Linked DNA regions of Homo sapiens: all the other regions are linked to region 2. The links come from fine-mapping of genetic effects on gene expression. A gene starts in region 2. Each other region holds a variant in brackets. All regions are shown on one strand. Distances are between the middles of the regions.

Region 1 (2,657 bases), 38 kb before region 2:
TTACATGCATGTCCAAATAAGGCTTAGAAACAGTTTTGTATAAAAGGAGACTATGAAAACATTACAACGAAATGCAATGCATCATTCTTGATTGGATCCCAGATTAAAAACAATATAAAATGCTATTAAGCACATTATTAAGACCTGGGAAATATGAATATAGATGACATAATGTGTATCAATCATAAATGAGTATGGTAACTGTATCATAATCATGTAAAAGGTGGCCCTTATTCTTAGGAGATACATAATAAATAAAGTACTTAGGGGAAGTGTCATGATATCTAACTTGCACATAGATCAGCTAAAGAAAAATCCAAACAGAAAGCAAATGTGGGAAAATATTAATTGATGAATCTAGTCTTATAACATTTCTAAATAATTAAACATTTCTCAGCCAGGCGCGGTGGCTCATGCCTGTAATCCCAGCACCTTGGGAGGCCGAGGCAGGCAGATCACGGGGTCAAGAGATCAAGACCATTCTGGCCAACATGGTGAAACCCCATCTCTATTAAAAATACAAAAATTAGTTGGGCATGGTGGCTCATGCCTGTAGTCCTAGCTACTGCTACTCGGGAAGCTGAGGGAGGAGAATCGCTTGAACCCAGGAGGTGGAGGTTGCAGTGAGCCGAGACCACACCACTGCACTCCAGCCTGGGCAACAGCAAGACTCCATCTCAAAAAAAAAAAAAAAGAATTAAACATTTCTCAAAATTAAAAAGGTAAAATAAGTTTTCAGACAAATGCTGAGAGAATTATCATCAGGAACCCTAAATGAAAAGAAGTACTAGTACTAGAAGTCCTAGCTGGAGAAATCAGACAAGAGAAAGAAATAAAGGGCATACAAATTTGAAAGAAGGAAGTCAAATTATCCTTGATTGCAGATAATATGATCTTGTATTTGGAAAAACAGAAAGACTGCACCAAAAAACGATTAGAACTGATAAACACATTCAGTAAAGTTGCGGGATACAAAATCAACATACAAAACCCAGTAGCATTTCTATATACCAACAATAATCTAAAAAAATCAAGAAAGTAATCTCATTTACAATAGCTACAAATAAAGTAAAATAAAATACCTAGGAATAAACTTATCTAAAAAAGTGAAAGATCTCTATAATGAAAGCTATAAAACATTGGACGACACAAAAATATGAAAAAATATTCCATGTTCATGAGTTGGAAGAATTAATATTGTTAAAATGTCCATACTGCCCAACGCAATCTACAAATTCAACATAATCTCTATCAAAATACCAATGACATTTTTCACAGAAACAGAAAAAATAATCCTAAAATTTACATGGAACCACAAAAGACACAGAATAGTCAAAGCCATCTAAGCAAAAAAAAAAAAAAAAAACAAAAAAAAAACAAA[C/A]AAAAAAAAACTGGAAGAATCACAATTATGTGACTTTAAATTATACTACAGAGCTACAGTAACCAAAACAGCACAGTACTGACATGAACATAGATGCACAACCAATGGAAAAGAACAGAGAACCCAGAAACAAGTCCACAGACCCACAGTGAACTTATTTTTGATAAAGATGCCAAGAACATACACTGGGGAAAGGATAGTCTCTTCAATAAATAATGTTGGGAAAACTGGATCCACATGCAGAAGAATGAAATTAGACCCCTTATCTTTTACCATATACAAAAATCAAATCTAAATGAACTAAAGACTTAACTCTAAGATCTGAAACTATGAAACTACTAAAAGAAAACATTGAAAGTAGGGTCTCAAAGACATATTTGTATACTTATGTTCATAGCACCATTATTCACAATAGCCAAAAGATGGGGGCAATCCAAGTATACATTGAGGAATGAATGGATTAAAAAAGTGTGGTATATAGCCATACAATGAAATATTATCCAGCCTTAAAAAGGAAGGAAATTCTGACACGTTATGACAATTTTACAAGACAAAAAACTTCTGGAGATTGGTTGCACAACACTGTGTTATACACTTAACATTACTGAACTGTTTGTACACTTAAGATGGTTAAGATAATTTTATGACATATGTATTTTACCACAAAAATAAAATTTAAAAAATTTTAATGGTAGAATCTAGATATTAGATAAATAAGTGTTCATGGTAAAATTCTTTCAACCTTACTGTATATTGGAAAAGAAAAATATAGATCAAAATTTCTCTCATGAATGAAATCGTAATGCAAAAATCCTAAAGAAAATATTAATAATTTAAATCTAAAGAAATGAAAAATACATCACAACCAAGAATGGTTCATTCTAACAATGCAAGACTATTTTATATTTTTAAAAAATCAGTTCATCACAATATCAGAATATTTTTATTCAGTGAAAAAATACTTACTTCTCTTTGGACTTCTTGACTATCAGTTACTTAGAAGTGTGTTATTTTCAAATATCAGAAAGCTTTCCACATATCTATTATTAATTTCTAATTTTATTCCATTGTAATCAGAGAGCATTTTTGTATTATTTGGAATCTTTTATAATTTATTTGAAACTGGTCTAGGCGCAGTGACTCATACCTGTAATCCCAGCACTTTGGGAGGCCAAGACAGGTGGATTGCTTGAGGTCAGGAGTTCAAGACCAACCTGACCAACATGGTGAAACCCCGTCTCTACTAAAAATACAAAAAATTAGCCAGGCATGGTGG
Region 2 (2,657 bases):
ACAGGGAGGGGAACATCACACACTGGGGCCTGTCGTGGGGAGTGAGATGGGGGGAGGGATAGCATTAAGAGAAATACGCAATATAAATGACGAGTTAGTCGGTGCAGAAAACCAACATGGCACATGTATAGCTATGTACCAAACCTGCACGTTGTGCACATGTACCCTAGAACTTAAAAAAAAAAAAAAAATCAATTCCCAAAGCATTTCTCTCATTTCTTCTGAAAAGTTTCTAAAAACACAACTCCAAGGATGAAATGGAAGTTAAAGGTAAACAGGCAATAGCGCTGAATACGTAATTTCAGTAACTCAGAATTTTCTCCAACCTCTGCTCTAAAGAAGCTTAGCTACAGAAGAGCAGTTACCTTTGAAACATTTTCCCCAACATAAAGATATCCGGAATGTGAAGCTGCCATTAAAACTGTGACACAGATCTACATTTACTGATACATCAAAACATCCCTAAAGTTCGAAATACGAGCTACAGAATCACATCAACCGCCTAACTTGTCTGTAGCCTAAACTCTAGTCCGGAGTTCATCTGCAAGCGGAATTGGGAAGTATTTCAGAGCCAGCATCTCCTCGCGCCATCCAGGTACCTACACACTTGAGGCCACCGAGTCACCTGCGCAGCCGTTGCTCCTCCAAGACCAATCCGGGCTCCCCAGACCCACCGGCCTGAATCTGGAGGACAGCAGTCCGCGTGACAACAGCGACTCGGAGATCAGCACCCGTCGGGAAAGCCGCGTACCCGTTGAAGCTGGCGTCACGCCCAAAGGAACAAACGCCAGAGCGTGTGTCCTGGGCAAAGGCGGCCCGCCGCTCCGGTCCCCGGGCAGCAGCGGCCGGCGTCAGGCCGCAAGGCGAGGGGCGGGGACAGGACTCTACCCGGCAGCCCAGCGCCGAGCGCCCGCGCCACTCCGGCCTTGCGCCATTCCGGCCCCACGACGGCCGGCGGCGGCAGCGCGGCTGGGCTCAGCGGCTCGCAGCCCGGGCGCCCCCCCTGCCGGCCGCTCGCTAGCTCAGCCTCACCCGCAGTCTTGTCCGCTGGCTCGCTCGCCCGCCTACAGGTCGACAGGGCCCAACGACCCGGCGAGCAACTTCACGGAAGGCACTGGCCGACAACGCTCCGCTGCCGCCGCGCCCCGCCCCTTTGTGACACCACCTACCAATCGCTGGACGGCGCTTTCGCTGCCCTCCAATCAGCGCGGGCGGGGGCAGGCCTGGCCCCCGGACGTGGGCGGTTGCCGGGGCGCCAGGGCCCTGGGGCCTTCTTGGCATTCGCTGGAGGTTGTGAGTTACGAGGCCCGGATGTTGATCTTTTATTACTAGCAACACTGGACCCCTGACTCGTGCCCACGCGGGCGTCTGGAGGGCAGCCGCATGGCCTGCTGGGAACGGCGGGGTTGAAGCCGGAGCCGCCCTCCGTGAGACCCACCGGGGATCCTCTTCCAGGCGCCTGATTTGCTGGAGATAGGCGATACAGGCAGACGCTGTCCAGTCGGTGGCCTCTCCAGAGTGAGGGGCGCTCCTGGTGCGTTTGGGCCGGCCTGTCCTAACAAATCTGCTTTAGGCTTCACCGTCCCCTAATGTTTCTGGCCTCAATTGCCTCATCTGGAAAATGGGGGCATTACCGTGCCTGCTTGAAGACAAAGGCGAAAACAGATAACTTTCTGTAGTCCTCATACAATTTACTGAGAACTGTAGGCCAGGCAATGGAGTAGGCACCCTGGGCTCAAATCCCAGCGTTGGGTAAGCCCAGCCACACCTCCTGCTCCAGTTTCCAAGCTGCTGAGCTGCGGTGTAAACAGTAACTGGCTTCAAGCCAACACCTGCCTTTCAACCTAACATGGGAGCCCACTGCCTCGTTCCGTTCCCCCTACCGATTTTCCAACTCCGTGAACCTCCTTCACTAAGTGGGTTACTCAGCTGACAAAGAATGTCATCTCACTCCCACTGCGGGTTCACTCATCCTCGACTTCTGGCTCAGAGGAGCCAGTCTAATATGAAACTAAACATCTAATCTGTGTCTCCTGTCCTCTCTCATTCTTCTGAGACCCTACCCACCAACTTATCTCCACAGTTCAACGAACTATTGAGCATACACTGGGGGAGTATGGTGAGGCACTGGGCATTGATTCACCAGTCTCGCCGTTGGTTCCTTCTGAAACTCCACATATGCTTAATGCTAAATAGATTGGAGACCTTTGAGGACAGAGCTATGATGGTAATCATCTTTGCATTCCTGAGCCTAGAATAGGGCCTGTGATGGAGACTTACTGAGTAAAAACCTTAGCGTTTCTCACCCTTGCCTGCCCACTTCATTCACACTGGAGAATTGACAGCATGGACCGTGGAGTCAGGCAGGTGTGTTTAAAGCCTTGCCTCCCAATACCAGAAGCTCCATTACCTGGCCAAGTCATTCATTCTTTACAACATCATCATCATTATCATCTGCCATTCTTCAAGTGCCAGATAGTTGATAAGGGTCTTTACGTATTCTCTCCCCATCACAATCCTGCAAAGTTGGTAGTGAAATCCCTCGTCTACAAAGGAGTAAACAAAAGCCAATTAAAGTAGAACAATTTACCTATAATCAAACAGCTCTATGTCGGAAAGCCATATTTAAACTAGGACACAATACAAAAATCCAACCT
Region 3 (2,657 bases), 34 kb before region 2:
TTCCTCATTAGAGAAATATAAAAGAAAACCATTTACACAGTCACCAGAATGGTTAAAATTAAAAGGACTGACAATATCAAGTGTTGACAAGAATGTGGCATAAACTAGAACTCTCACGTTGCTGGGAAGAATGTAAATTGGTTCAAATGCTTGGCAAAATTGGCCGGGCGCGGTGGCTCATGTCTGTAATCCCAGCACTTTGGGAGGTCGAGGCAGTCAGATCATGAGGTCAGGAGATCGAGACCAACTTGGCTAATACGGTGAAACCCCGTCTCTACTAAAAATACAAAAAAAAAAAAAAAAATTAGCCCGGCGTAGTGGCGGGCGCCTGTGGTCTCAGCTACTCAGGAGGCTGAGGCAGGACAATGGCGTGAACCCGGGAGGCAGAGCTTGCAGTGAGCCGAGATAGCGCCTGGGTGACAGAGCAAGACTCTGTCTCAAAAAAGAAAAAAAACAAAAAACAAAAAAACAAAAAAACCAAAAAATGCTTGGCAAAATTGTCTGGCATAATACTAAAGTTAAACGTGCATCTTCCCTCTGACTCCGAAAGTCCATTGCTAGGTATATGCTCCAAAGAAACAAGTGCTATGTCCACCAAAGAATGTATGAGAATATTCAAAGGAAGTTTATTGATAAAAGCCAAAAGCTAGAGACAACTCAAATGTCCATCAAAAGGAAAAGAAAGAAGCAAATTGAGGTAAATCAATCACACAGTACAATAGTACACAACAATAAAAAAGAATTAACTGATACATACAACCACATGGATAAATCAAACAAATACTTTTAACAAAAGAAACCAGACCATACTCTCTATGATTCCATTTATATAAATTTCAGGAATAGGAAAAACGTATTTACGGTAATAGATGTAAGAACAGTCGTTATTTCTGAGAGTAGGAACAGGTACGTATTAACTGGGAAATATTATGAGGAAACATTCTGGAGTGAAAGGTCCTATTTTAATTTGGGTTGTGTCTACATGAGTGTATATAAATGTAAAAATTCGTCAAGTAGTATATTAAAGATTTTTGAATTTTATTATACATGAAAAGGAAGGGAGCCATTAATAGAGTAAAAAGGAAAGCAATAAAGTGGTAATATGAAACAAAGGACTTTTATCTAGAATATATATAAAACTCCAAAAAAAATCTGTAACAAAAAACATACAACCCAATAGAAAAATGGAAAAATATAGGTGTTTTATTAAAAAGGGTATCCAAATGCCCAATAAACATATGAAAGGTGCTCAACCTTCCAGGTCTCATGAGAGAAATGCAATTAAAACCACAATG[T/G]GATGCCACCACAAACAAAGTAGGATTACAAAAATTACAAAGGACCATGCCAAATACTGGTAAGAATATGGGAAAATGGCAACTCTCATTCACTGTTGTAAAGAATGTAAATTGGTTCAATCACTTTGGAAAAAACTGGCACTATCTACTAAATAGTAGATATCTTTATCCATAATAAATAAATATTAACATATTTTAAAAAGTAATTATTGCCAGATTAAGATTAAGCTCTCTTTTTTTATCCTTCTTAGACCCAGAATGATCTTTAAAATGATGTTAAGTGCAGTATAATCCCTTCAGGTGTGCTTCTAATCCAAAAAATCCAATTTATCCCTTTTAGAAGTTTAATAAATAACTGAGGCCAGAAACCTGAAATGAATAATACTTTATAATTTTTTCACAATGACCAACAGACCTCATTGCTGAGTGCTCTGCAGGGGTAAGCTAGAGATAAGCCTGGTCAAATGCCAACAGCTTCACCTTTTTGCTGAGATTCATGTTCTTCATCTTAGCCTTCAGCAGCTTCATCTTATTCATAGTTATTGAATTTTCAATTATCTGTTGCCCAGAAGAAGAAGGCTCAGTTTCTTCATCCTCATCTGTATCTGAATTATACATAGAACCACCACTGCAAAGAAAACAATAACTACTTGAAATTTTTCTGATACCTGCTCAGTGACTAAAAATGCTCTATATGAAACAGCAATCTATAGAAGTTACTAATGATAAAACACTACATCCATTTTGTCAATGTTAATGTCAGGAAAATATATTTCAAAGAATGTACTTCTTAAAAGAAAAAATGAAATGGGAATAAATATTATGATCTAGGATTACTGAAAATCTAGTATAGCTGAGCTTCTCTGAATTCAGTATATCATAAATGAAGATGTTTTGACACCTGCCATATCATTCCCAAAGAGGCAAAATCCATTTCCATGAGAATGTCTGATTTCATTTTATCAGCCAAGGCTGATAATTGTGCAACCCAGACAACAGGCTGATGAGATTTCCATGAATCAGAATTTTTTTAAATTTGGCACGGGAGAGAAGTACAGATTTTTAGTCATCCTGAGGAGATTCTCACTAAAAAAAAAAAAAAAAAAAGAATTCATACACAGGTGTCATCAGAACATTTTCTATTCTTAAGGAGCAAAAAACATTTTTTTTTTCTTGAGACAGTCTCACTCTTGTCGCCAGGCTGGAGTGCAATGGCACAATCTCGGCTCACTGCAACCTCTGCCTCCCGGGTTCAAGCGATTCTCCTGCCTCAGCCTCCCAAGTAGCTGGGACTACAGGTGTGTGCCACCATGCCCAGATAATTTTTTGTATTTTTAGTAGAGACAGGGTTTCACTGTGTTA

Evidence for each region. PIP is the estimated chance that this variant, and not a neighbour inherited with it, causes the effect. A credible set is the group of variants that fine-mapping cannot tell apart.
Region 1: its variant is the best candidate, but not a certain one, in a credible set for the expression of ZFAND4 in whole blood (INTERVAL, PIP 0.89).
Region 3: its variant is the best candidate, but not a certain one, in a credible set for the expression of ZFAND4 in whole blood (INTERVAL, PIP 0.73).

Annotation. Positions count from the first base shown.
Region 1 is chr10:45,633,848-45,636,504 of GRCh38, forward strand. All of the region lies in intron 6 of ZFAND4 (zinc finger AN1-type containing 4), which reads right to left. Among named protein-coding and RNA genes, the nearest start is that of ZFAND4, 38 kb to the right of the region's middle. The variant C/A (reference allele first, on the strand shown) is at 1,382.
Region 2 is chr10:45,671,647-45,674,303 of GRCh38, forward strand. It overlaps ZFAND4 (zinc finger AN1-type containing 4), which reads right to left and starts at 1,126. Exons shown (of 10, transcript NM_174890.4): 1 at 604-1,126. RefSeq lists a silencer at 709-1,428.
Region 3 is chr10:45,638,041-45,640,697 of GRCh38, forward strand. It overlaps ZFAND4 (zinc finger AN1-type containing 4), which reads right to left. Exons shown (of 10, transcript NM_174890.4): 6 at 1,776-1,923. Among named protein-coding and RNA genes, the nearest start is that of ZFAND4, 33 kb to the right of the region's middle. The variant T/G (reference allele first, on the strand shown) is at 1,296.